Homo sapiens: one gene and its partners. The protein of the gene in region 4 interacts with the protein of the main gene of each other region in a pairwise test. Each region holds a gene or a part of one and is shown on either strand. Other genes may lie near its edges. The genes, in order: EPS15L1, DLGAP1, INPPL1 and ITSN1.

The links.
Region 1: the proteins of ITSN1 (region 4) and EPS15L1 interact in binary tests that used the Homo sapiens proteins (3 or more experiments, as listed by UniProt).
Region 2: the proteins of ITSN1 (region 4) and DLGAP1 interact in a two-hybrid assay, tested with the Homo sapiens proteins (2 studies listed by BioGRID and IntAct).
Region 3: the proteins of ITSN1 (region 4) and INPPL1 interact in binary tests that used the Homo sapiens proteins (3 or more experiments, as listed by UniProt).

What each region holds. Positions count from the first base shown.
Region 1 is NC_000019.10:16,468,957-16,476,536, reverse strand, and holds the start of EPS15L1 (epidermal growth factor receptor substrate 15-like 1), read left to right. Parts: upstream 1-4,566; 5' UTR 4,567-4,591; coding exon 4,592-4,624; intron 4,625-7,580.
Region 2 is NC_000018.10:3,878,289-3,885,323, forward strand, and holds part of DLGAP1 (disks large-associated protein 1), read right to left. Parts: intron 1,853-7,035; 5' UTR 1,781-1,852; coding exon 824-1,780; intron 120-823; exon of another isoform or gene 44-119; intron 4-43; exon of another isoform or gene 1-3. UniProt on the Homo sapiens protein: Part of the postsynaptic scaffold in neuronal cells.
Region 3 is NC_000011.10:72,227,753-72,234,787, reverse strand, and holds part of INPPL1 (phosphatidylinositol 3,4,5-trisphosphate 5-phosphatase 2), read right to left. Parts: intron 6,599-7,035; coding exon 6,535-6,598; intron 6,441-6,534; coding exon 6,290-6,440; intron 6,062-6,289; coding exon 5,941-6,061; intron 5,781-5,940; coding exon of another isoform or gene 5,699-5,780; coding exon 5,558-5,698; intron 5,324-5,557; coding exon 5,230-5,323; intron 5,126-5,229; coding exon 5,036-5,125; intron 4,865-5,035; coding exon 4,769-4,864; intron 4,668-4,768; coding exon 4,517-4,667; intron 4,427-4,516; coding exon 4,320-4,426; intron 3,993-4,319; coding exon 3,890-3,992; intron 3,796-3,889; coding exon 3,599-3,795; intron 3,291-3,598; coding exon 3,173-3,290; intron 2,549-3,172; coding exon 2,452-2,548; intron 2,163-2,451; coding exon 2,024-2,162; intron 1,914-2,023; coding exon 1,814-1,913; intron 1,714-1,813; coding exon 1,625-1,713; intron 1,348-1,624; coding exon 1,266-1,347; intron 1,134-1,265; coding exon 1,044-1,133; intron 508-1,043; coding exon 394-507; intron 262-393; and 2 more. UniProt on the Homo sapiens protein: Phosphatidylinositol (PtdIns) phosphatase that specifically hydrolyzes the 5-phosphate of phosphatidylinositol-3,4,5-trisphosphate (PtdIns(3,4,5)P3) to produce PtdIns(3,4)P2, thereby negatively regulating the PI3K (phosphoinositide 3-kinase) pathways.
Region 4 is NC_000021.9:33,897,495-33,900,390, reverse strand, and holds the end of ITSN1 (intersectin-1), read right to left. Parts: 3' UTR 530-2,896; downstream 1-529. UniProt on the Homo sapiens protein: Adapter protein that provides a link between the endocytic membrane traffic and the actin assembly machinery. Acts as a guanine nucleotide exchange factor (GEF) for CDC42, and thereby stimulates actin nucleation mediated by WASL and the ARP2/3 complex.

The DNA of each region.
Region 1 (7,580 bases), on a different chromosome or scaffold from region 4:
AGGTTGCAGTAAAGAAGCCGGCTAAAACCCACCAAAACCAAGATAGTGATGGGAGTGACCTCTGGTGGTCCTCACTGCTACACTCCCACCAGCGCCATGGCAGTTTACAAAGGTCATGGCAACATCAGGAAGTTACTGTATATGGCAGCCTGAAAAGGGGGCCGGGCGCGGTGGCTCACGCCTGTAATCCCAGCACTTTGGAAGGCTGAGATGGGTGGATCACGAGGTCAGGAGATCGAGACCATCCTGGCTAACACAGTGAAACCCTGTCTCTACTAAAAATACAAAAAAATTAGCCGGGCGTGGTGGTGGGTGCCTGTAGTCTCAACTACTCGGGAGGCTGAGGCAGGAGAATGGCGTGAACCCGGGAGGCGGAGCTTGCAGTGAGCCGAGATCGCGCCACTGCACTCCAGCCTGGGTGACAGAGCGAGACTCCGTCTCAAAAAATAAATAAATAAATACATAAATAAGTAAAAAGGGAAGGCATGAATAATCCACCCCTTGTCTAGCATATCATCAAGAAATAACCATAAAAATGAGCAACCTGGCCAGGCACAGTGGCTCAAGCCTGTAATTCCAGCACTTTGAGAGGCCGAGGCAGGCGGATCACTTGAGGTTGGGAGTTCAAGACCAGCCTAACCAACATGGAGAAACCCCACATCTACTAAAAATACAAAATTAGCTGGGCGTGGTGGTGCATGTCTCTAATCCCAGCTATTCAGGAGGCTGAGGCAGGAGAACCACTTGAACCCAGGAGGTGGAGGTTGTGGTGAGCTGAGATCCCGTCATTGCACTCCAGCCCTGGCAACAACAGTGAAACTTCTCCCAAAAAAAAAAAGCAACCAGCAGCCCTTGGGGCTGCTCTATGAAGTAGCCATTCCTTTATTCCTTTACTTTCCTAATAAACTTGCTTTCACTTTACTGTATGGACTCGCACTAATTCTTTCTTGGGTGAGATCCAAGAACCCTCTCGGGGTCTGGATCAAGACCCCTTTGCGGTAACAGTACAAAGGGTCTGATTGTGAGAAGTGGCAGGGATCACTGGAACTCCACTTCAGATCCCATCTGGATCATCAAAACATCAACCCTAAATAAATAAATTCAGGAAATATGGTTAAATATAGAGTTTAGTTTAGCACAAAAGTTTGAGGACGGCCACCCTGGAACACAGATTCCAAAGAATGGAAATCAGCATTCCAAACTGAGGAAGTTTGGGGGTCATTTATATAGGTAAGGTTTGGGAAGCTTGACAGCGTTTCTACATATTTCACACAAGGCAAGTACATAGTTAACAGTAATCTGATTAGTCAAGGCAGTGGTCTTTTTGGGAAGGGTATATTTAACATTCACATAGAGGACATAACAGTCACAGGACCTTTTGCACTATCTGGTCTGATTTAGGTGCAAGATAATAGAGGAAAGGTCAGCAATGAAGAAGGGCGATCTTAACGCTGATGCCATTTAGTCTTGAAATGAATCTACAGAGCAAGAACAGGAGAGTTAATCTATAATCTATAAGCAGAAGTTGTAGTTACATGCTGTCTGGCTCAGATCACACAGTCCCGTTTTCTTCAAGGCTCAACATAATTCTTAGGGTTCAAAAGTGTATGATTAAGTTTGGATTTTTTTTTTTTTTTTTGAGACGAAGTTTCTGTGTTGCCCAGGCTGGAGTGCAGTGGCGCGATCTCGGCTCACTGCAAGACCCGCCTCCTGAGTTCATGCCATTCTCCTGCCTCAGCCTCACAAGTAGCTGGGACTACAGGCACCCCCCACCATGCCCGGCTAAATTTTCGTATTTTTAGTAGAGATGGGGTTTCACCATGTTGGCCAGGATGGTCTCGATCTCCTGACCTCATGATCTGCCTGCCTCGGCCTTCCAAAGTGTTGGGATTTCAGGCGTGAGCCACCATGCCCGGCCTTTTTTTTTTTCTTTTTTTTCTTCTGAGACGGAGTTTTGCTCTTGTTGCCCAGGCTGGAGTGCAATGGTGCGATCTTGGCTCACTGCAACCTCCCCATCCCAGGTTCAAGCAATTCTCCTGCCTCAGCCTCCCGAGTAGCTGGGATTACAGGCACCCGCCACCACGCCTGGCTAATTCTTGTATTTTTAGTAGAGATGGGGTTTCACTGTGTTGGCCAGGCTGGTCTCGAATTCCTGACCTCGTGAACTGCCTGCCTCGGCCCTCCAAAGGGCTGGAATTACAGGTGTGGGCCACCGCGCCCAGCCAAGTTTGGATTATTTTTACAAGATGATGCTGGAGAGTTTCTATGGCCACCACCATTCTAGACTCTGATACTGGCACTTAAAGCCTGCATGCTACATTTCCTGGACGCCGTTGCCAATTGGCAACGTTCCTGTCATGCTTTATTAGAACAAAGTTGGGAGGCAGAAAGAGGGGAGAAACCATTTTTTCAGACTTCTGCCAGTGGCTTAGGTGGTGGTGACAACAACAACTGTGACTTTCGCAATCATGGTGGAGGCAACTGTGGCTAGCAAGGGTGAACACATCTGGGATCCTTCTGTAGGCACAGTGATTGTGGGTTATGGGTCCTCCTGTGCTTTATTTATTTATTTATTTTGAGACGGAGTTTCGCTCTTGTTGCCCAAACTGGAGTGCAGTGGCGTGATCTCAGCTCACTGCAACCTCCGCCTCCCAGGTTCAAGTGATTCTCCTGCCTCAGCCTCCCGAGTAGCTGGGATTACAGGTGCCCACCACCACAACCGGCTAATTTTTGTATTTTTAGTAGACACGGGATTTCATCATGTTGGCCAGGCTGGTCTCAAACTTCTGACCTCAGGTGATCCATCCACCTCGGCCTCCCAAAGTGCTGGGATTACAGGCGTGAGCCACTATGCCCAGCCACCTCCCCTGCTTTAATCTTTCAGCTCTAGAGAGGCTAGCAGCCTCATATAGTTATGAATCTTTAGGTAAACTTACCTTCCTCTTTTGTTCTTCCAGTACTTCCAACACTTTTATACTCAGTCCCCTGTAGTCGTTTATGTATTCATTTATTTTTATTTATTTATTTTTTAGACAGAGTCTCGCTCTGTCACCTAGGTTGGAGTGCAATGGTGAGTTCTCAGCTTATTGCAACCTTCCCCTCCCAGGTTCAAGCAATTCTCCTGCCTCAGCCTCCTGAGTAGCTGGGATTACAGGCACCTGCCACTGCACTGGGTTAATTTTTGTATTTTTAGTAAAGATGGGGTTTCTCCATGTTGGCCAGGCTGGTATCAATCTACCTGTCTCAACTGGATTGCTGGGATTACAAGTGTGAGCCACAGAGCCTGGCTCAATCCCCTGTATTCAATATCCTCTGTTTGAAGTACCTAGAAGGACTTCTCTTTTCCTTATGGAATACGTACTGATAAAGCACTCAAGACTGTTAAAAACCTTCATTACTCTATTGATGTAACAAAAGAAGCTGAGGCAAAGTTAATATAAGTAGAGAGTTTGGGCCAAGGTTGAGGACCGCAGTCCAGGAGACACAGATTCAAGTTGCCCTGAATGTATGCTTTGATTAGCAACAGTTACAAGTGGGTTCTTTTTGTTTTTGACTTTGTTTTGAGACAGAGTCTCACTCTGTCACCCAGGCTGGAGTGCAGTGGTGCAATCTTGGCTCACCGCAACCTCCACCTCCCGGGTTCAAGTGATTCTCTGGCCTCAGCCTCCTGAGTAGCTGGGACTACAGGCATGCACCACCACACCTGCTAATTTTTGTATTTTTTTTAGTAGAGATGGGGTTTCACCATATTGATGTTTCACCATACTGGCCAGGCTGGTCTCCAACTCCTGACCTCATGACCCTCCCACCTCGGCCTCCCAAAGTGCTGGGATTACAGGTGTAAGCCACTGTACCTGGCAACAAGTGGGTTCTTGTCTTATTTATTTATTTATTTTTGAGACAGAGTTTCGCTTCTGTTGCCCAGGCTGGATTGCAATGGTGTGATCTTGGCTCACTGAAACCTCTGCTTCCTGGGCTCAAGCAATTCTCCTGCCTCAGTCTCCTGAGTAGCTTGGATTTCAGGTGCCCGCCACCACAGCCAGGAGGACGCCTTGCGGGGCAGGGTGAGGGGGGCAGGGTGCGGGTCCCCCAAATTAGCGCGCACACACACACACACACACACACACACACACTGCGATCCTAGGAACAGGGCGCTTTGCGGGGCAGGGTGAGGGTCCCGACCCTCCGCGGGGTGGGCGACCGCCTCCCCAGGCGCACTGGCAGGGGGACGGCATCCCTAACAGAGAACCAGGCCTCGGCATGGGCTGGAGGGATGACACAGCATGGTCGACTCGGACAGCGGCCAGCGGCATGAGAGTCCGAACAACGTTGGAAGGAGGAGTAGGGGAACGGGCAAGAGAGCACGGAAGACGCAGATGCCTCAGGCCCAGCCCCTCCAGGCTGCGTGTGGGCGGCCCCGCCCCTGCCCCCGCCCCTCCCGGCCTGACTGCACATGCGTGGCCCTGTCTACGGCCCCGCCCTCTCCCGGGACAGGCGGCCTGCGCACCGCCCTCCCGTCGTCCCAGTGCGCACGCGTGGCTGCAGCCCCGCCCCCGTTCCCCCGGCGCTCGGAGCCCGAGTCCGCGGGAAGATGGCGGCGCCGCTCATCCCCCTCTCCCAGCAGGTACGGGCCGGGCGGGCCTGGGGGCGGCGCCGGGGTGCGGGGCGCGAGGCGAGCGGTGCGGCGAGGCTGAGGCGCTGGGAGACTCAGCCAGGCGGCGGCGGGGGCGGCGCGTGCTGAAGGGCTTGCGGCGGGCGGGTGGGCAGGCGGCCCTGAAGGTGACAGGCCGGGACCCGCGGCCTCCCGTGCCCGAGCGACCCTCGCGGGCACCGGCGAGGCGAGGAGGTGCGCAGCGCGTGTCCTCTCCGCCCAGGGCCCGGACCCTGCCGCCGCTGAAGCTCCCAGGCCGGGGACCCGCGGAGGCGCTGGGCTGCATCCCGGAGGGGTGGGCGAGGGGTGCGAGCGTTTCTGTCGGCGCGGCGGCCCAGCGAGTCTTTGTCTCCCTCCGGTCCCGGCGCCCGGGCGGGCAGGGTCCCGCCGGAGCCCGGACCCGTCAGCAGCAGTGCGATCTCAGACTGATCCCCTGCCTCCTTGGAAGCTGCTTCCGCCACCCCTGCACCGGGCGCAGATCGTACGTCTCCGGGCGCCTCTCTGTGTCCTCAAATTCGCCTGATGCGCTTATGAAGGGGCAGTATCGATAGCGCGACACAGACATGCGAAAAAGAGCCATGCGTAGGCAGCTCTGTTATTTGGGAGAGACTTTCATTCATTCATTTTCTATCCATCCCTCAAATGTGCGTTGGGTCAGGTGCTGGGAGCGCTGCATTCTTCCAGACAGACAAGGTCGCTGCTTTCCTGGAGGTGACACTCGTGGGAACTAGAAACTACCTGTGTTATGCTAATCACAGCTGCCTTTATTTGCTGAATACCTGTGTTGTGCAAAGCACCATATAAGCATTTTGCTAGAATGATCTAGCACAGCATGGTGATTAAGAGTGAGGACACAGGGTCAGATCATGTGTTCAAATCTTGGCTCCAGCCCCGATTTCTCTGTGCCTTTGGTTGAAGCTCTTAGCCATTCCACCCATCAGTTGCTTCCTTTGGAAAATGGAGATATAAAAATGTGTTGGGATTATGTGAAAATTAAGCACGTGAAAAAGCGCTTAGAACAGTGCCTAGCATATGAGAGGCACTCAGTGATCCTATAATTACTGTCATCATTTAATCTCTGCCAGATTTGGACGTTTGGGAGTAGAGACCGCAGCAATTAAGAATTCCAAACCCAAAGAGAGTTGATAGGCCGGTTGCATGCTTGCATGACTGGTTAGCTGATCCAAGGAGAGAGAAGTGCACAGCTAGCCAATTTGCAACACTGTCACTAAGTTAACAGTGCTAAAACCCGGTGATTATTAATTAGCAAGTTCTTGTTACTGACATGAAAGTGCTCTGTAAACTGTTAAGTGTCCTACCGATAATAGGTGTTAATAGCTAAGTGCTACAGTTTAGAGTATGTAGTCAGGGGGTGGGGGGCGGGGAAGGCGGGAGTCGGGGGAAAATCACCTAAGATCATTTCATGAGAAAGCACTAAGCACTCCCAGTTTGGGAGGCGTGGATCTTTCTAAAACTTCCTGTCCAATTTTTTTTTTTTTGAGATGGAGTATTGCTCTGTCACCCAGGGTGGAGTGCAGTGGCATGATCTCAGCTCACTGTAACCTCCGCCTCCCGAGTTCAAGTGATTCTCCTGCCTCAGCCTCCTGAGTAGCTGGGACTACAGGCACGTGCTACCACACCCGGCTAATTTTTGTATTTTTTTTTTAGTGGAGACGGGGTTTCACCATTTTGGCGAGGCTCGTGTCAAACTCCTGAACTCGAGTGATCCACCCGCCTTGGCCTCCCAAAGTGCTGGGATTACAGGCGTTAGCCACTGCGCCTGGCCAGGTCACTGACTTCTTAGCCTCTTCCTGTTCCTTTCCCTATACATTTGTTGAATGAAGGCGTGGCCTGGTTTTCTTCGTTTGGAAATGTCAGCACTTCTTTACACTTGCTCTCGAGTGAAAATCTACACCATGGGTTACTGTTGGCCCAGGTGTGAGGCATGGCCCTCCCAGGCCCTTACTGTCTAGCTCAGGAGATCACTTGGGTTCACAGATAACTCTGGGGGAACCAAGGGTATAATTCCAAAATTTTTGGTTGGGGGCAAAAGGGAAGCACCCTGCAGCAGGTGGCTGTGATCTGGTTGGATTTAGGTGACAGAGCACACTTGGCAAGCAGATGGCCAGGTGAAGGTGAGCAAAGTGGATAACCCAGCGGGCTAGCCTAGGGGAGGAGGGGTGTGTTTTCTCCACCCCCACTCCTGTCTGCACTTTTCCCATCAGCATCTTTTTCAGTCTGTTCTGTACTCCATGACATCATCTCAGAATCTCCTTCCTTATATACTCTTTTCTGACCCTGAATATCAACGTAAATTCGAAAGGTCTGCACCTCTGCCTCTTTAGGAGTGATTTTTTTTTCCCAACAGCATCTCAGTGATTTGTGTGTCTCCCTGTCCCCCTGCTCAGCTCTCTTCTGCTTTCCAAAAAGCCTTCCGTGGAAATGCATCCAGATCTCTTTCCTCCTTGTACTCCCCGAGGTTACCGGTGGCCCCTCCGTCCTTAACCCCGGTGCCCTGTGGCTGCAGCCGATCCTCCTCGAACTCCGCAACACTGGAGCCCGTCGGTCTTCACTCTTCATCCTCTCTCCTTTCAGTCTCTCCTTCTTGTCCCCTAATTTCAGCCTCCCTACCTGCATCTTATCTCTCTGTGCGCTCCCTCCCCTGGAGCTTCTGTGCAGAGGACTTCAAACCTGCCTTCTAGAGTCCAGAAGGTGTCTCTCTCCTGCACCTCTGCCAGCCTGCTGGACTCTGGAATGGGCCATTTCCTTGCCATGCCCCAAAGTGGTCTGGGCCATTCTACTTCCTACTTGCCCACTCCCTCCCACTTAATCCCACGCCACTGTGGAAGTCATCTTTTTGATTTTTGAGACAGGGTCTCGCTCTGTCCCCCAGGCTGGAGTGCAGTGGTAGGATCATAGCTCACTGCAA
Region 2 (7,035 bases), on a different chromosome or scaffold from region 4:
GAGGTAGGGAAGAAAAACATCTCTCTCCTATATTTTTATCCAGGTAACATCTGGTTTCAGTGAACTGGAGGAAAACACAAGGAGACAGTGGCAGGGGAAGAGCAGCCTACCGTGGCTCTGTAAGTGTGTGGGATTTACATGCTGACACTAATTGTATTTTACTTCTCTAATCCTTCCTCCTTTTCCTCCTCCTCTCTGTTGTCCTGGGTGTCTGCAGCTGTGCTTGTCAGGTCCCCAAACTGGCTAGCTCCCCACCTCCTCAGGGCACAGGGCGTCTTCCTGATTTGCTGTGCCCTCGATGTGGAAGCTCAGGTCGGGGTGTAGTTACTGATGGTTATGATGATGACCATCGCAGTATTCTAACATAGCTTCAGGCAGGATTTCACAATGAAAACCACCCCACAAAACCCTGAATAGATCTAATGAAACTCTTTCCAAAATTCAAACGATCGTCACGTATTTTTGAATTAAAGAAAGGTGGACTTCTTTTAAAATTCTCTGTAGACTTCCCTTTCCTCTCTTTCCCATCCTATGATCCCTCAGACAAAAGAGGAAGCCCATAATAACTGGTTGCCTTTCCATAGGCGTGCTTTTCAAAGCACTTGGATATCTAGTGTCTTAAGATAACCCGGTGAGGTCGGTAGCATTTGTTTCTTTTCATTTTCCCTACAGGAGCAATTCGGCACAGAGATGCCGAATAATTTGCACAGGTTCCTATCTTAATAGACAATTCAGAGTAGTGCCAAGACTAGAACCAGGAGAAATGCCCACACAAGCATGCCAGGTACTACTTCTAAGCCTCCATCATTGACAGAAATGGTACCTGCAGGTACTGGCAGGAGCGTTCTTGCTGACACGACTCGGACTTCACCATGGCCTGGTCCATGTTCACCGAGGCCTTCTGGTAAACCTCCCGGGCCCGGCTCACGGTGAGCGTGGAGGACCAGGCGCTCTTCTTCAGCAGCGGGGTGTCCAGGCTGACCGGCAGGTTGGCGCAGGTGGAGCACTTGACGTCGTTGTTGCTCCGGGAGGCCTTCACCGCCTGCTCGCTGATGGTGTTGTAGGCCTCCAGGAAGTACTGTGAGGCCGAGCGGTCGGGGCACCTGCCCATGGTCATCACGCCCGAGGGGGCGTGGTAGATGCACATGTCACCATCCAGGTTGTCGTCCGAGCTCCACCAGCCCGGGGAGGTGCTGGGCCGGGCCTTGGGCTCCGCGCGCCGCTCCTTGCTCTTGCTGCGTTTGCCATAGCGCGCCGCCTGCGCCTCGTCAGGGCTGGCCTTGCCCCCGTTGACGCTGCCCTTGGACGGCCCCTCCAGGGAGTGCGACTTGGTGAAGAGCTTCTGGACCGAGTGCACCAGGTGGCGGATGCGGCCGGGGCTGTCGCTGCGGTGCTCCACGGCCGTGCGCTTGTACTGCAGGGTGTGATAGCCATCGCGGCTGAGTGGCAGCTGCCGCTCGAACTGGTCCAGCAGGTTGGCGGGGATGCGGTTCGCCTTGGTGGCCAGGGTGCGGGGCACCAGGGCACACTCGTCCTTCAGCTCTTGCTGCGAGGTGTAGTGCCTGCGGGGGAAGGTGCTGCTGGCCAGCGGGTCGCTGAAGGGGCCCACGCACTCAGCCTGGAAGGAGTTCCGCTGGGTGTAGTATGGGTGGTCTGCGGGGTGGTGCTCCACTGGGCTCAGCAGGTAGGGCTTGCGGTCGGAGTGGTGCGACAGCGAGTCACAGGCCGAGTCGCAGGTGACCCCGTGGTGATGGCTGCGGCTGCCTGATAGCCCTTTCATGGCGGACCGGAAGCAGCCGCCAGGGTCATGGACACCCGGAAGTCAGGCTCCAGACCCGTCTTGGGCAGGGATCTGGGGGAATGAAGAAAAGGGCAAAGTCGTTAACATTTCTCTTGGAAATTAGGTATTGCACTTTACAGGGTCTTGCTCTGTTGCCCAGGCTAGAGTGCACAGGCGCCATCTCTGCTTCCTGCAGCCTCCACATCCTGGGCTCAAGCCATCCTTCCACACCAGCCTCCCGAGTAGCTAGGACTACAGGCAGGCCCCACCACGCTTGGCTAATTTTTTGTAGAGAGGAGGTCTCACTATATTGCCCAGGCTTGGTCTCGAACTCCTGGGCTCAAGCTGTCCTCCCACTTTGGCCTCCCTTAAGTGCTGGGATTACAGGCGTGAGCAACCCTGCAGGCCTGGTATTGATCTCTTGAGGGTGCCATCTGCGACCGTGTTTTTTTGGCAGAACTTAATCAGTGTCCCCTAAAACAGCTTGAACGCATTATTGGAAGAGCTCTGTCACCTCTGTGGGGCAGGAAAGCTGACTCCAAAGCCTGTAGGGAGAGAAGGTGGAGGTAAAGCTAGAAAACTAGAAAAAGGAGGCCGGGCGCGGTGGCTCACGCCTGTAATCCCAGCACTTTGGGGGGCCAAGGAGGGCGGATCACCTGAGGTCAGGAGTTTGAGACCAGCCTGGCCAACATGGTGAAACCCTGTCTCTACTAAAAATACAAAAATTAGCTGGGCGTGGTGGTGGGTGCCTGTAATCCCAGCTATTCGGGAGGCTGAGGCAGGAGAATTGCTTGAACCTGGGAGGCGGAGCTTGCAGTGAGCAGAGATGGCACCACTGCACTCCAGCCTGGGGGACAGAGCCAGACTCCATCTCAGAAAAAAAAAAAAAAAAAAAAAAAGAAAAAGAAAACTAGGAAAAGAAAACTATATTTAAAAAAAAACCAAATTGTTTTTAAATTATTTGAAACAATAACTCTCCTTCCCTCTATGACCCCAATAACTGGATGTATCGTTCTCTTGCTTCTTGGGTCTTATTCTTTTTTTTCTTTTTCTTTTCTTTTTCTTTTTTTTGTGAGATGGAGTTTTTGCTCTGTTGCCCAGGCTGCAGTGCAATGGCACGATCTCGGCTCACTGCAACCTCTCTCTCCCGGGTTCAAGTGATTCCCCTGCCCCAGCCTTCAGAGTAGCTGGGATTACAGGTGCCTGCCACCATGGCTGGCTAATTTTTGTATTTATGAGGTTTCACCATGTTGGTCAGGCTAGTCTCTACATGTTAATTGTTAAAGATAGAACTGGAGAGGGGCTCAGTTCCTCTAGGAAACCTCTGCTGGCTCTCCTAGCAGAGAGAATTAGTTCCTCTCTTGTGTTTCCACCACATCTGAAACTCACTCCCCAGAACCTACAGAGTTGCTTGCTTCAGGATCTCTCTTCCGGCTTATGTTCCTTGCCTCCCAGTCTATTAGTCTCATTATGTACCCCGACCTAGTGTCGATCCAGCCATGTAAGCACACAGTAATAGCACTCCATAAGTGTGAATGAAAATGTGAGTTAAAAAACAAGATGAGCCGGGCGCGGTGGCTCACTCCTGTAATCCCAGCACTTTGGGAGGCCGAGGCAGGTGGATCACGAGGTCAGGAGATCGAGACCATCCTGGCTAACACGGTGAAACCCCGTCTCTTCTAAAAATACAAAAAATTAGCCAGGCATGGTGGCAGGCGCCTGTAGTCCCAGCTACTCGGGAGGCTGAGGCAGGAGAATGGCATAAACCCGGGAGGCGGAGCTTGCAGTGAGCCGAGATCGTGCCACTGCACTCCAGCCTGGGCAACAGAGCAAGACTCCGTCTGTCTCAGAACAAACAAACAAACACTAAGATGAATAATAGAAGCCAATGGCACCTCGTATCTTTAGGATATCTCTGTCTTCTGTTGCATGTTTTCCTTTTTGAATTCTGTAGGAACAACTTCACCACACAAACAATCCCCCCAGGTTACTCAGAGTGGGAAAAAGTAAAGATATGGCAAATAAATCATAAATGTAGAGAAAATCTGCCCAGGTATTTCTGTCAATTGAGGGTCAAGAGCTTTCTCTAAACAAACAGAGAACAAGTTAAGCTTGACTAGGCTAATTTGAGGATCATATATCTCTTCTTCCTAGTTTAAGGTTTCTGGTTGAGTATTTACGCACAAGACCAGGCGTGGTGGCTGACGCCTGTAATCCCAGCACTTTGGGAGGCCAAGGTTGGAGAATCGCTTGAACCCAGGAGTTTGAGACAAGCTGGGAAACATAGTGGGACCCAGTCTTTAAAAAAAAAAAAATTAGCTGGGAGTGGTGGTGCATGCCTGTAGTCCCAGCTACTCAAGTGGGGAGAGGATTGCTTGAGCCCAGGAGGTTGAGGTTGCAATGAGTTGTGAATGCACCGCTATACTTCAGCCTGGGTGACAGAATGAGACCCTGTCTCAAAAAAAAAAAAAAAAAGTTAATAGCCGATGGCAAAATGACCAAAGGATGGCCCTTGAAAAGTTCTTGAGGACATGAGTGAAGGACCCCAGACCTAATAGCTCAGCCTCAGGGAAAAGTCACTCATTCATATCCCATGTAGGGTATCTCAGTCCATTTCCAAGCTCGGATCTTCCGGAGTTTTAGTAACTAACAGAGGCTGCTATTCCATCAGGGCAGAGTATTTTCTCTGGACTCCAAAACAGTGTTAGAGTCAGTGCCTGACCAAGTTCCTTCTGACAGCCTGATTTTCTTTCAAGACTTCCTACAATACAAAAATTGCCATATAAAGAGTCATCTTGGAAAGCCAACATGACTCTCTAAAATATCACTAATGTCATTTCAGATATTCCTAGAGAGATAGATATGTGGTTTAATTAAGAAACAAAACATATAGTGCTGGGTGCGGTGGCTCACGCCTGTAATCCTAGCACTTTGGGGGGCCGAGGCAGGCGAATCACCTGAAGTCAGGAGTTCAAGACCAGTCTAGCCAACATGGTGAAACCTCGTCTCTACTAAAAATACAAAAATTAGCTGGGCATGGTGGCGGGAGCCTGTAATATCAGCTACTTGGGAGGCTGAGGCAGGAGAATTGCTTGAATCCAGGAGGCGGAGGTTGCGGCAAGCCGAGATCGTGCCACTGCACTCCAACCTGGGTGACAGAGCAAGATTCCATCTCAAAACAAACAAACAAACAAACAAAAACAAACAAACATATAAAACACCCACACTGGACCTCATGAAAAAAGATTTTTGAGAGGCCAGGTCTTGTCTATTCCATGAGACATACTGCATCTGGGAGCGCTCATGACAATGTTGGCAATCTCTATCCATGCTTTGTGAAGCTCCTTTCTTCCTCCTGTCTCCCAGTTTCTGGATTGACCATTCAGGAATAATGATGAAAGGTTTTAATCAGTACAGTCACTCAAAATTTGTTAGTCTACTAAATTGTGACGTCCTTAAGGGTAGGGACTATGTTTCACCCACCTAGTATTTGGCAAAGTGCTATCCTAGTGGATAGTGGGAATTAAGTTAGTAGAATATTTACTCAATTACTTAATGCATTAATGCAAAATTTCCCAAAGTGGTTCATAGTGTGATTCAAGTAGCATCTGTTTAATGAAAACATGACTGTGTGGCAAAGGCCAGGCTGGGCAAGGCCAAGGAAAGATGCCCAATAGTTGGGGGGACCATTCCATCAGGGTGACCATTCCAAAGACCAGTCTTCAGAGCAAGGCAGGAAGCAGACTGGTGAACACTCCTTCTGACCTATATACCTTTGACTTCTAACTCTGCAACTCACTGGGCAATATCGTACCTTCTGCCGTTCTACCTGTCTGGAAGTAAAGTCTGGGGAGTTTGCCTAACCTGCTGACTACAGGATGCTTAGACAGAGGGCAATCCGCCTGGAAGAGAGAGAGAAACTGACTCTTGAAGGGACAAAAAAGGAATTCAGGACTTATGATACCTGTGGATAAGGAAGAACCGATAGGTAAAAAACGTGTCCACTGGTGACAGACTAATGAAACAGAAAACCTTGGGATTGCTTTGTATGAAGTTATGGTCCTAAAAGTAGGCTGTGGCAAGGAAGAATGTAAGAGGGTTAAGTATGTGTTTTTAGCAAAACTGTGGCACAAACTAACTTAGATGCAAAAATCCATTGCATAAGAAAGTCTCTCTCTACAAATCAGGTTCCACTGAGGACATTTTTGCCTTTCAAATACAGACTTATAAAAAGCAAAAACAAGATTCTATTAGGATTATAGACACATACTAACTTTTATGATCACATATAGTAGAATCTCAATATATAAAATGATGTGGAATAATGTTTCGAACTTTCCTTCTCAAGCAGTTTGAATCTTGGGTAGATATTTTCTGCTAAATAAAATGTGAAACTGGCAAGAGCTGAAAACATGAATTATACATGTTTACTCCAAAATATACAAGATTATTTTAATCAGGTATTCAGTATTTAATTATCTTTAATATGTGAGCAACATTCCATGCAAGATGACGTTACCTGAGGACAAGCAGAGCAAACGAAGAGCTGTTTAAGGCCACTAATGATGATTTAAGTTAAATGATGTAACCAATGATAATTTCTGTAAATTAATCATACACAGTGTGTTTTTTACTAAAATTTAACTGGGCTATTTTCAGCACAGGACAAGCACCTCTATTTTCTTGGAGGGTAACAAATTGCATCCAGAATAAATAAGCTAACATTCCTCCTTCCTTACTTGTATTTGTAAAAGAGATATTGAGATCTTGATCTTTTTTCTCTATGATGTGGGAAAAGAAGGTCATAAAAAATGGCAATAAACATTTCTAAATGCTAAATCTATCTTTCTGGTCAAGGCCAAATAAACAACTTAATACCATGGCCCTTTCTGTAACAAATCTTACACTCTCTTCTATCGTCTTGTCATTTTAAAATGAAAATAGGTCAATTTGTGATTATAAAAGAAAACACATTCTGTGACTTCTTGGTGAGCAAGGGCAAATGATCTAAAATCCTAAGGCCATTGGCAATGGGTAGACAATTGCTGGTGGCACCTACTATGGAGGTCCTGCTCTTCCTTCTCTCATTCTTCATTTTCCTCTTGCCTTACTCTTAAACTCCCTTTCCAGCACATTTATCTCTGTCACTTCTTTTTTCCCCCCTCTCCTAATTAATGTTTATAAGTTGTATCCATGGGTACCACTTGCTGCCACCTGTGGTGTGACCAAGAGCATCATTAGAAAGCTTCCTTGCC
Region 3 (7,035 bases), on a different chromosome or scaffold from region 4:
TCCTCACTCATGCCCATGCCCATACACACACACACACACACACACACACACACACTCTCTCTCTCTCTCTCTGCTGGCCCCACACTCCCTCCCAGGCAGGCTCTCCAATAAACTCTTATGTACCCCTCTCTGTGCCCTCACCCATAAGCAGGGGCCCTGCCCACAGCCTCACCGTGGGCAGCTGGCGTGAAGACCACTGCACTTTGAGGAAGTTGATGTTGTCACTGCTCTGGGCATCATTCTCAAAGCTCTTCTTGTATTCTGGGGTGGGGGTGGGAGACACCCAACTGAGCACCACCTCTCAGCTTCCTTTCCCCCTAAGTAGGGGGCTGACTGCACCCTCTTGCCTCCCATCCTCCTTGGCCCACACCCAGCCCCTGCCACGCCTCTGACCCTCCAGGCAGGTAGAGTAGAACTCGATGAAGAACTTGGTGCGGCTGGCTGTCTTCACAATGGCCTCGATGCTCTCAAACTCAATGTAGGCCTGGTCTGAAGTCTTTGAGAGCCCTGAGGAGAAAGGGAGGAGAACAAACAGGAGGACTGAGAGGATCACAGGAGGAATGGGACAGAGAAACAGGGCCCTGGGACAGGAAATCAGGGGTCCAGAGCAAGGAGGCAGGGCCAGGAGGGGCCTCCCCAGTCCCAAGCCACCAACAGGGAATCTCCAGAGGCCAGACCCTGGACCAGAGCAAAGAGACAACCCAAGGATAAAAAACCCATTGAAGAGGGTGCTGGGGACCAGAATGCCTGCAGGATTCCCACACCTACAGGCATACTCAGGGACACACACGTGGCCCTAGACAGACACAGACACATAGATAGGTGTACACTCACGTATGCACACACACTCATGGGCACACAACTCTTGTGATGGCCCAGGCGCACAGACACCCTGACACATCACACCTTGAGAAACACTCCTGCACTCACTGGTACACACACCCACACACACACTTACATAGTCAAACCTATGTACATCCCGAGGCCACCACCTGTGCCCACCTAGATTATGCCACACCCACAAGCATATCTGGAACAGTCACCTTTCTTGGAGATGAACTGGGAGGTAACTCCAACCTCAAATGTCCCAAACACGGGGGAATGGTCGCTGGTGACGATGTCATCAGTGCAACCTGGGGAGAGGGGATAGGAATGGGGACTCAGGGGGAATATTCCCACCCTCGGCTCCCACCTCCCAAGGTTAGGGCAGAGTCCAGATGGTGACCACCCCAGATCTCCCATCACTCTGTCCGGGAGGCTCTGACCATAAGAATTGCAGATGATGTGAGTTTCAGGGTAGGATTTCCACAGAATCCGGTCACACCATGAGGGCACATTGGTCCGGACCTGGGGCAGGGGATGGCAGCATGGTTAGAGCTGACAGCTAGGAGGCTGCTTGGCATGGACCCCACTCCAGAGCTGATGAGTCCCCACACTTCTATTACTAGAGGCCCTAGCACCCACCTCCCTTCTTGGATCCTCAAAATACCCAGGATCACCCAAAGGCCTCAGAGGGGCCATGGAGGCTGGAGTGGAAGCTGCAGAGGCCCATACCCTTGACCCAAATTCTTGATTCATCGCAGGCCTGCGGTCCCCCAAGGCCCATGCCGTTTTCTTGGCTCACCCCAGTTGGCTTCTGCTTGTGCCAGGCATATGTGTCCCGGGAACCCCGCTCATAGCGGTAGGTGGGTGGGAAGGAGATCTCCTCCTCACCTAAGGAAAGCAGGAGACAGGTGGGGTTCAGGGCCCTGACACCCAGGGATACTGCAAGTCTCCTAGCCCTCAGATCACCACCTACCAGGCCCACACTCACTGAATCGAAGGAAGACCTTGTGCTTCTCCCGCTCCAGGTTGAGCTGGTCCACCCTGAGGAGGGGCTCAAACTCTTTCCTGCTGATGTAGTTCAGGATCTCCTGGGGTGGAGGACACAAAGGCTAGAAACATTCCTCCGGAGCCAGAGCCAGGGGTGATAGCCCATGTGGCCCTTAGCCTCCCTACAGCCATGGCAGGGCCCTGCTCGCACCTGGATATCCATGTCCAGGCGGTAGTTGAGGTCCCCAAACCAGAAGAGGTGTGTGAAACGCAGAGAGATGTCAAAGGCATTGAGCTGCCGGTCGCCCAGCGAGAGCAGCCGCAGGATGTCCAAGTAGTTTTGGTTCCTCCTAGGGTGAGGGGTGCGTGGTGGGGAGGGGTAGATCCCCAGGGTCAGGGCCAGAAGTCAGGGATAGGCATAAAGGGAAGAAGTCTCAGGAGTCAGGGATGGGGTAAAGATCCGGGCCCCTGGGGACAAGGTTAGGGTCAGGAACAGAAGGGTCTTGAATTGGGATAAGAGAGCAGGGGGTCTCTGGAGACAGGCCTGCGGGAGGGTCATGGGCTAGGGTATGGGAGCGGGAACAGGCCTCAGGTGAATGGGATGGGTGTAAAGAGACCATGGGAAAGGCGCCCCCTCACCGAGCCGTCTTCTCATTTCCCGAGGTGAGGTGACAATTCACAAAGCCAAATGAGGTGCCATTAAACATGAAGGAGACGCCCACAGCCCCCTTGTTCCCTGTTAAGGCAAGCAAGAGAGGAAGGCCTGGGTCATCCTCAGAGGGCTCCCAACTCTCCCTTCTGCCTCTCAAAGCTGCAGTGAGAGGATCCTCCCGCTGAGCCCACCAGACGCTGTGACATGGGCAGGCCCCTGCACACACCCACACCTTCCCTGGGGGAGGGGGGGGTCCTCATTGGGCACACATGGTCTGTGTGGATGGCCTGAGTCTGTCTGTATGTGTGAGCAGAGCCCCTGGAGATCACAGGGGACCCCAAGGGTGAAGCTGAAAGGCCCTGCAGATTCTGCGCAGAATCTACCTGGGAGAGCACCAGACCGAAAATCAGGAGACCTGGGCACAATGCCTGGCTCCACCACTTACTTGCTGTGTGACCTTGGGCAGGTCACTCAACCACTCTGGGTTTGAGTTTTATCATCTGTGAAAAGGGGGTAATTATCCTGGCCTTGCCTTCCCAGTGGTGCTGGGAGAGATTTAGAATATGAATATGTTTTTCAAAGTTCAAAGTACCCTATATATGGGGAAACTAAGATCACCAAAAATGGGGCAATCCTAGGCTTGAGAGGAAGCAGAAGCCATGGACAGAGAGACGCTGCCACTCTTGGGCACCTGCCAGCCCCACTTACCCAGGGTGTTGGCGATGCCAGTCTTCACACTGGACGTACTGACATGGCTGATACGGTTCTCGTGCTCTGGCTTGACCAGCACTGCCACCTTGATATTCCACAGTGATTGCATGGCAATCTGGGTAGAGAGTGCATGGTCACCACTGCCCTGCTGCACCCACTGCCTGCATTTCCCCCTGCACTATAAATAGACTTTTGTGTCCATCACAGGGTAGGAAGGCTTGCCACCCCTCTTCCTGACGGACTGGAGAGAAATGGTTCCTCTCGTGGCATGAAGGACTCAGGTCAGATCTCCCAAAGGATATGCTCAGGGACCAGAGAAAAAGCCAGTGAAGCTGTGCTCCCAGGGTTGCCCATGAAGTCAAGTAGGCTAGTTTGGAGGTGGTGTGTGAGGACAGGGTCCTGGACAAGATGACCCCCCCTCACCGGGCGGTAATCCAGATCCGTAAGCTCCTTGAGGCCCCCGCGCAGTAGGTCCAGCCACTCGCGGTCGCCCACTGAGTTCTCCTGGGTCCCAAAGACATAGATGTCATGGGGTATGGTCACTGTGACCTCGTCCAGGGTCTTCCCCAGACCCTTCGATGTGAACCAGGATGTCACGTTTTTTGGAGGTGGTACACTTCCTGGAGGTGAAGGGGGTGAGGTGGGTCTGGAGGGGTTAGGCACCTGCTCTGGGGCCATCCCTCTCTCCCGCCCCAGCCCCAGCCCGGGCCTGACCCATGTTCCAGGTGCCTATGAAGACTGAGATCATGTCGGGCTCGTCCTGCTTGGAGTGCTTGTTCTTCATGAGCTGCAACAGCTGGCAGAAGGCCTCCCGCTTCTGGGGGAACAGCAGCCACTCAGGGGCGGGTAGGCATCCAGGAAGCCCCCCGTCCACAGGGATACCCTGCCAGTTGGCTCATGTCCATGAGGAGAGGGTCTGTCTGGTTCTCCACTGCATACCCACTGCTCAAGCATATAACAGTGCTGGCAAATGTTATCCACCCTCAGGCCACCCGTTCTCAACACCCTCTACCCTGTCAGACCTACCCCTGCCAGGAGGGATGGCATGCCTACATCATGTGTTCCCTTTCTTACCCTCCAATGGGAAGCACCCATGTGGGGGACCCCCGCAGTCCCCAGTGGCCTGGCCCAGCCTGCTGCTCACCCGGGCACTGACAAAGATGAAGTCCTTGCGCTGAGTCCGGTCCTTCTCCTTCTCAAACACAACACCCAGCTTGTTCTGGACACGCTGGGACTTAATGAGCTGGCGGACTAGGGCATGGAGGACCGGTCACATGGGCCTGTGCCCCTAGGCCAGGGGCTCCGCCCTGCCCACCCCTCCCAGGTCTGGCCCTGGCTCACTGCGGTCGTGCGTGAAGGTGGTCCAGTCCTCCTGGGAGTCCCGCTGTCTCCGCAGCAGCACCAGCCGCCCACCCTCCACATCCACGCTCAGCGTGAACTTCTGTGACTTCCCAATCTTGGTCAGGTCACCCAGGGTCACATCTAGCTTCACCTGTAGGCCAGGTGGGGAGGCTGCTGACAAGACCTTGGAGTAGGCAGCACCCTGGTCACCTCCAACCACCCTTGGCCCTGTGAGGCCCCACTGCCATGTACCTCAAAGGCCTGCACGGGGATGGTCTTGGCCTTACGTGTGGATGGCTGCGGAGCTGGGGGTGCTGTGGAGCTCATGTCCTGTAGGGCCTTCAGGGCCTGGAGGGAACAAGGGCAGGGCGGGGTCAGGGGACACACTGAAGGCTGGGGCAGGGAGGGACACAATTGACCTTGGGGCCAATGTTAAGTTGTAGACTGAGGGTTGAGATCAGTGCTAGGCCAATGACAGTGGCCAGTGAATCGGGGGTCAAGGGTCAGAGATCATGCCACCTTCTTCTGGATGCCTGACAGGAAGTCCTTTAGCACTGACAGCTTCAGCACCAGGCTCTCTAGTTCCTGCTCCCCTGTCTGTGGCAGGTTCTGGGGGGAGGAAGAACCAGGCTTGTACATGAGTCACCTAAGCAGAGCCTCCCACCCAGCTCCAGAACACGAACGCACCTCCCAGAGGTCTCCCTACAATCTACCTGCTGCTGCAAAAGGCGGGTCACCATGGGCGAGCTCTGCTGGTCAAACACCTTGGACAGGATCTCCAGGCCTGACAGGACCTTGTCCACCTCACTAGGGAAGACATCAGATCAAAAGAACTCCCACCCCGACCTAAGTATAGGGAAGGGGGCGCTGGGTGTAGCCTCAACCTCACCACAAGGATAAAGGCTACCAGTGAGGAAAGTCAAGAGGCAATGGCTAGTTCACTGTTCAGGATCAGAGATCAGGGCACCTGTGCAGCCGGGAAGCAGGTGAGGACAGGTCAGAGGTAAGGGTGTAATACATGGGGCTGGATGTCCCAGATACCTGTGCAGCCTCCGGCATGAGGTAGCGAGGGTACGGGTGAGGTGGGGCAGGTGGCTGGCTCCACCCCTCACAGCTTCCAGGTCCAGCCCATAGCTGCCTTTCAGGTAGTCGTGCGAGACGGTGCTCAGCCCATTGGGAGCACTTTGGGGAGGGGTTAAGAAGTCAGTGGAGGTCCTGCTGACCTGTCCCAGCACCTCTGCCCCATCCCTAGAGGAGATAGTACCTGTGGCAACCAGGGCGGGATGGATCAGGTTATCTGCCTCTGGGCTGAGGTGGGGTGGGGGTCCCTGGTGGGGTCTTAGAAGGCCTCCCCACCTTTGGTAGGGAAATAGTTCTCAGAGGAGAAAGGGTCTCCTGTTCAGTGGATGGGATGGGGGTCTCACCTCTCAGCAGCTGGAGCTGTGGGAGTCTCAGGAGCTGGCAGGGGACTGCTGGGCCCAGTGGGGGCAGAAATGCTGGTGGAGCCAGAGCGCGGGGGCAGCGGGGGCTTCTCATCCTCCCCATCTGTGGGCAGGGGTCAGTGGGCAGCCGTTTGGGCCTCCCACACTCAGTGGAGTAGGAGGCACGATGCAGCTGTAAAGTGACTTCCATGGAAAGAGGGTTAAAGGGCCCCGGCATCATGGCCAAGGGAAAGGGGGTTACAGGAGAGGTGGGGTTGAGAAGGGGGGATGGGAAGAGGCAGGTAGAGCCAAGGGACAGGGGCAGGGAGGGGACCTGCACACTGGGAAGTACCTGAGGCATCCCGGTCATCCGGTGGGTCCGGCTCTCGCTCACCCTCTACAGGAAGAAGCAGGGCGCACACAAGGCCCTGGTTGGGCTGGGCGTACAGGCCGATGAGCTCACCCAGGGTCTGGAAGCGGCGCACAGGCACACCCTGCGAGGTCTGTGGGCCAGCAAGGGTGGGAGGAAGGGTCAGCCAGCAGGTCCCCAAGCCCTAGGCTGGATCAAGGTCAGGGGTCAGGGGCCCAAGCTCCTACCTGCACAGCCAAGAAATCTTCTCCATCAGGCAGAATGCGATACGTGTGCACATGCTTCTGATACCTGATGCCAAGGCAGGGCCAGAATCTGTCACCCCCAGGCTGGGGTCTAAGACCCAAAGCACCCCTTCCTCCTGCCAGCAAGCTCAGCACCCCAACCCCCTCAGCTTGGTTTCCCTAAAACCACCTGCCCAGGCTGCACAGGGTTAATGATGTGGCCGGTCCACTTCCACCCTCCTGGTGTTGCCTATTGGGCAGGAATGACCAGAACACCCCCGTCTCCCCACCAGACCTACACAGACTCCACACCCACCACAGGGCAGGGCCTGAGAAGCAACAGGGAGCTCTTTTGTGGCCTCCACAGCTGTCTAAACAGCCCCTCTGGGCTGTGGTACCAGTCTGGGCTCCCCGCCAGAGTAAGAGTCTTCAGAAGCCTGGTTAGCCCATTTGCACACACGGGCAACGTGCTAACACGTGTGTATGCCTCCTGTGTTTATGCTG
Region 4 (2,896 bases):
TATTTATAGTCAGTTAAATCAGTGATGAAATAGGTAGGAATGGCCTTAAAACCAGAACAGGAGGAAACAACCTAATACAATTCAGCGTTGGGTTTTATGGAACGCAGAATTATAGATCACCCAAGTGCTGAACACGTGGAGTTACGTGTGTTAGAAACTTCTTCCTGGAAATTCAGCGACCCTTCTGAATGTCTTTATAAGAAAATCAGCTTTTTGCACCGCCCTCTCAACCCCACCCTCAGAATTTCTTATGCTGTACAACACAAAACTTCTCCTGTTCTCACAAAGACTTCGTACACAGAAATCTATTTCTGCTTGGTGTTAGCTAACATTTATCTGAAGCCGCAGGACAGCTGAAAGGGTTGTTGGTTGGTTTTGTTTTCTAGGTTTATTTCTGCACAATTTTCCTTGCACAGCTACAATCTTATCTGTGGGAAGAGGAAGAGACACCATTTGCAGGGCTGTTAGCTTCCTGTGCTCTCAGAAAAGAGTGAAGCAGAAAGAACCCAAAATAATCCACTATAACAGATTGGCTTTTCTCCTTTTATTCATGAACTATTTGAATTTAAACCACACAGGTCAAAATGACCAAAGAGTTGTTTTTTGTTTTTGTTTTTGTTTTTGAAGAGATTGTTCTTTTTAGGTTCAAGATACACAGGAAGAGCAATTTGTACTGATGTTGCTACTGGTTTAAAGAAAGGTCTCAGTTACCATCATCTTAATCGGTAAAATTTAACATTTCACACATAATAAGTTGCCAAAGGAACACTCAAACAGCAAAAACAAACCTCAGCTTCTTTCAAACAAAAAAGAAGAAACAATGTTTTGGCCCTGCTTCATCAAACCTTTAGACAAATACGTAAGTCTACAATTTATAATAGTGTCTAGTAATTCTTAGAATTCCATTAACATTACATATCAGACAATATAGTCTCTCTTTTATGGAAAATTAAACAGTACCATTATTTGGCAACAGAAGTATATTACAATCAACAGCACATCCATCAAGGGGCGGGCCTGGTCCTACCCCTGGGCAGGGCTGTGAGGGAAGCAACATGCCACCAGCACTGTGGCCCGCTTGTCACTGGAAGCACAAGGAGCTCACGTTCTGATGGATTACATTCTTTTCCAAACAGGCAAAGGCTATCTGGGAGGGTTCGCTAGCACTCCTGGGAAGGGAGGGCCCCATGTTCTAGCTTTTCTTGTCCCCAGACTTTTTTGAAACAACCAAGGCCCAAGGGACAGTTGACTGGCTGACTTGTTTCCACTCACAGCCCTCTTGCCACCCCAGCCAGAGGGCATCGTTCTAAGGAAGGAGAGTCAGGGCCTGTTTGGGGTTGGTAGACCAGAGCTCATCTCCTCTGCTGGCAGGCCTTAGGTGGCCTTCCAAGGCTGCGCCTGAACAAAGAAATCTCTGAACAGCTCCATCTTTGGGAATAAAGCCAGTTATGGACCACATGGACAGTGCCTCTAAGTGATTTGCAGATTATTCATGCACCTAAATAGATTCCAGGAAGCTTCCAGAAATCACAGCTTCCCATACTCCTGAAGTCAGCAGCTTTACTGGTTCGGGCCTCTCAAAAAAGGGGCTCCAGTTGCTGGTTGACAGCATTAAGATGCACGCAGCCTGTTCAAAGAAATGTTGAAAACCTAACACATTCTTCAGATGTCTTTTCAGACCACAGGCCCTCAACCTTCCACCAGCGGTGTCACCCCCAAACACAATGCATTCAGATCACCAGAAACCAGCTCTTTTTGTTACTGCAGTATTTCCAGGCTGCCAGGGGAGGCTGGACTCCTGGGGTTGCCCCCTCCTGAAATCATTTCTGAATGCCTTTCTCAGGGGTTTAGACATTGAGTTTCACAGAATCCTCCTTAGGTGGCCTAAGGGGCACTTCTGGTGGCCAAGTACAGAAAGTCTGTGCCCCAGAAGCAGCCTGGACTTCTGATCCTTTTCTGGGAATGCAGACGGGAGGAAGGCATCTTCCCCCTGGGGTCTCCATGGAAACATGGGCATCCAGAAGCCTGCCCCAAAACGGCTTAACTCAGAAACCCTAAACCATCCATCCACCCACCTGGCTATGCAACAGTTGAAGACAGTGAGGATGCATCAGGAAATTTCATGGAAAACGCAAACGCTAATTAGGGATAAACTGAATCAATCCAGATACAGAAGTAGAAAGGGCGACCTGGAAGTCAGAGAGTGGCCTCTCTAGTGGGATAGCTGCGTCAGCCCCAGATCCCTAACAAATCCACTAGAACCCAAGGAAGCCTGCGTGGCACATGGATCTGATGAAAAACAGGCTCCCTATCCTCTCATCCTTCCTGACACAAGTACCCTCTCAGATATGTGATCTGCAAAAATCCATTTTTAATGCAACACCAAGGTCCCATGCGAGGTCATAGCTACAGGATACTTTTCATTTGATCACGCCACCATCCATTACACTGAAATTTATCATATTTCCTGCAGGAAAAAAAATGACTCATTTGATTTCTAACATATACAACTTGGAATTTTTTTTTAATATAAGAAATTTAGTTGAGTTGAACCCAAGTAATCTCATTAAGCATTTTCTACTCTTGGAATAGGTTTTAAATTTTTTTCTATAGTTTTATGCACTTAAATTAGATTCCTAAAATACTCTCATATACATACAGAAAAATAATCTCTCAATGACAAATCACATTTTACAATAACAAGTTAAATATTTTTGACTACAGAATCTGTGTTAGTTTATGCAACATTTAACAGCATGGCCTCTTACATACCATATATACATTTAGTCATGGCCATTCCATAAACATACAGCAGAGATTTCATGAGGAACATGAAATGAATACAACCTTTTCCCTTTATATAGTGGGAGTTCGCCTTTTTCTTAGCTGGAAACAG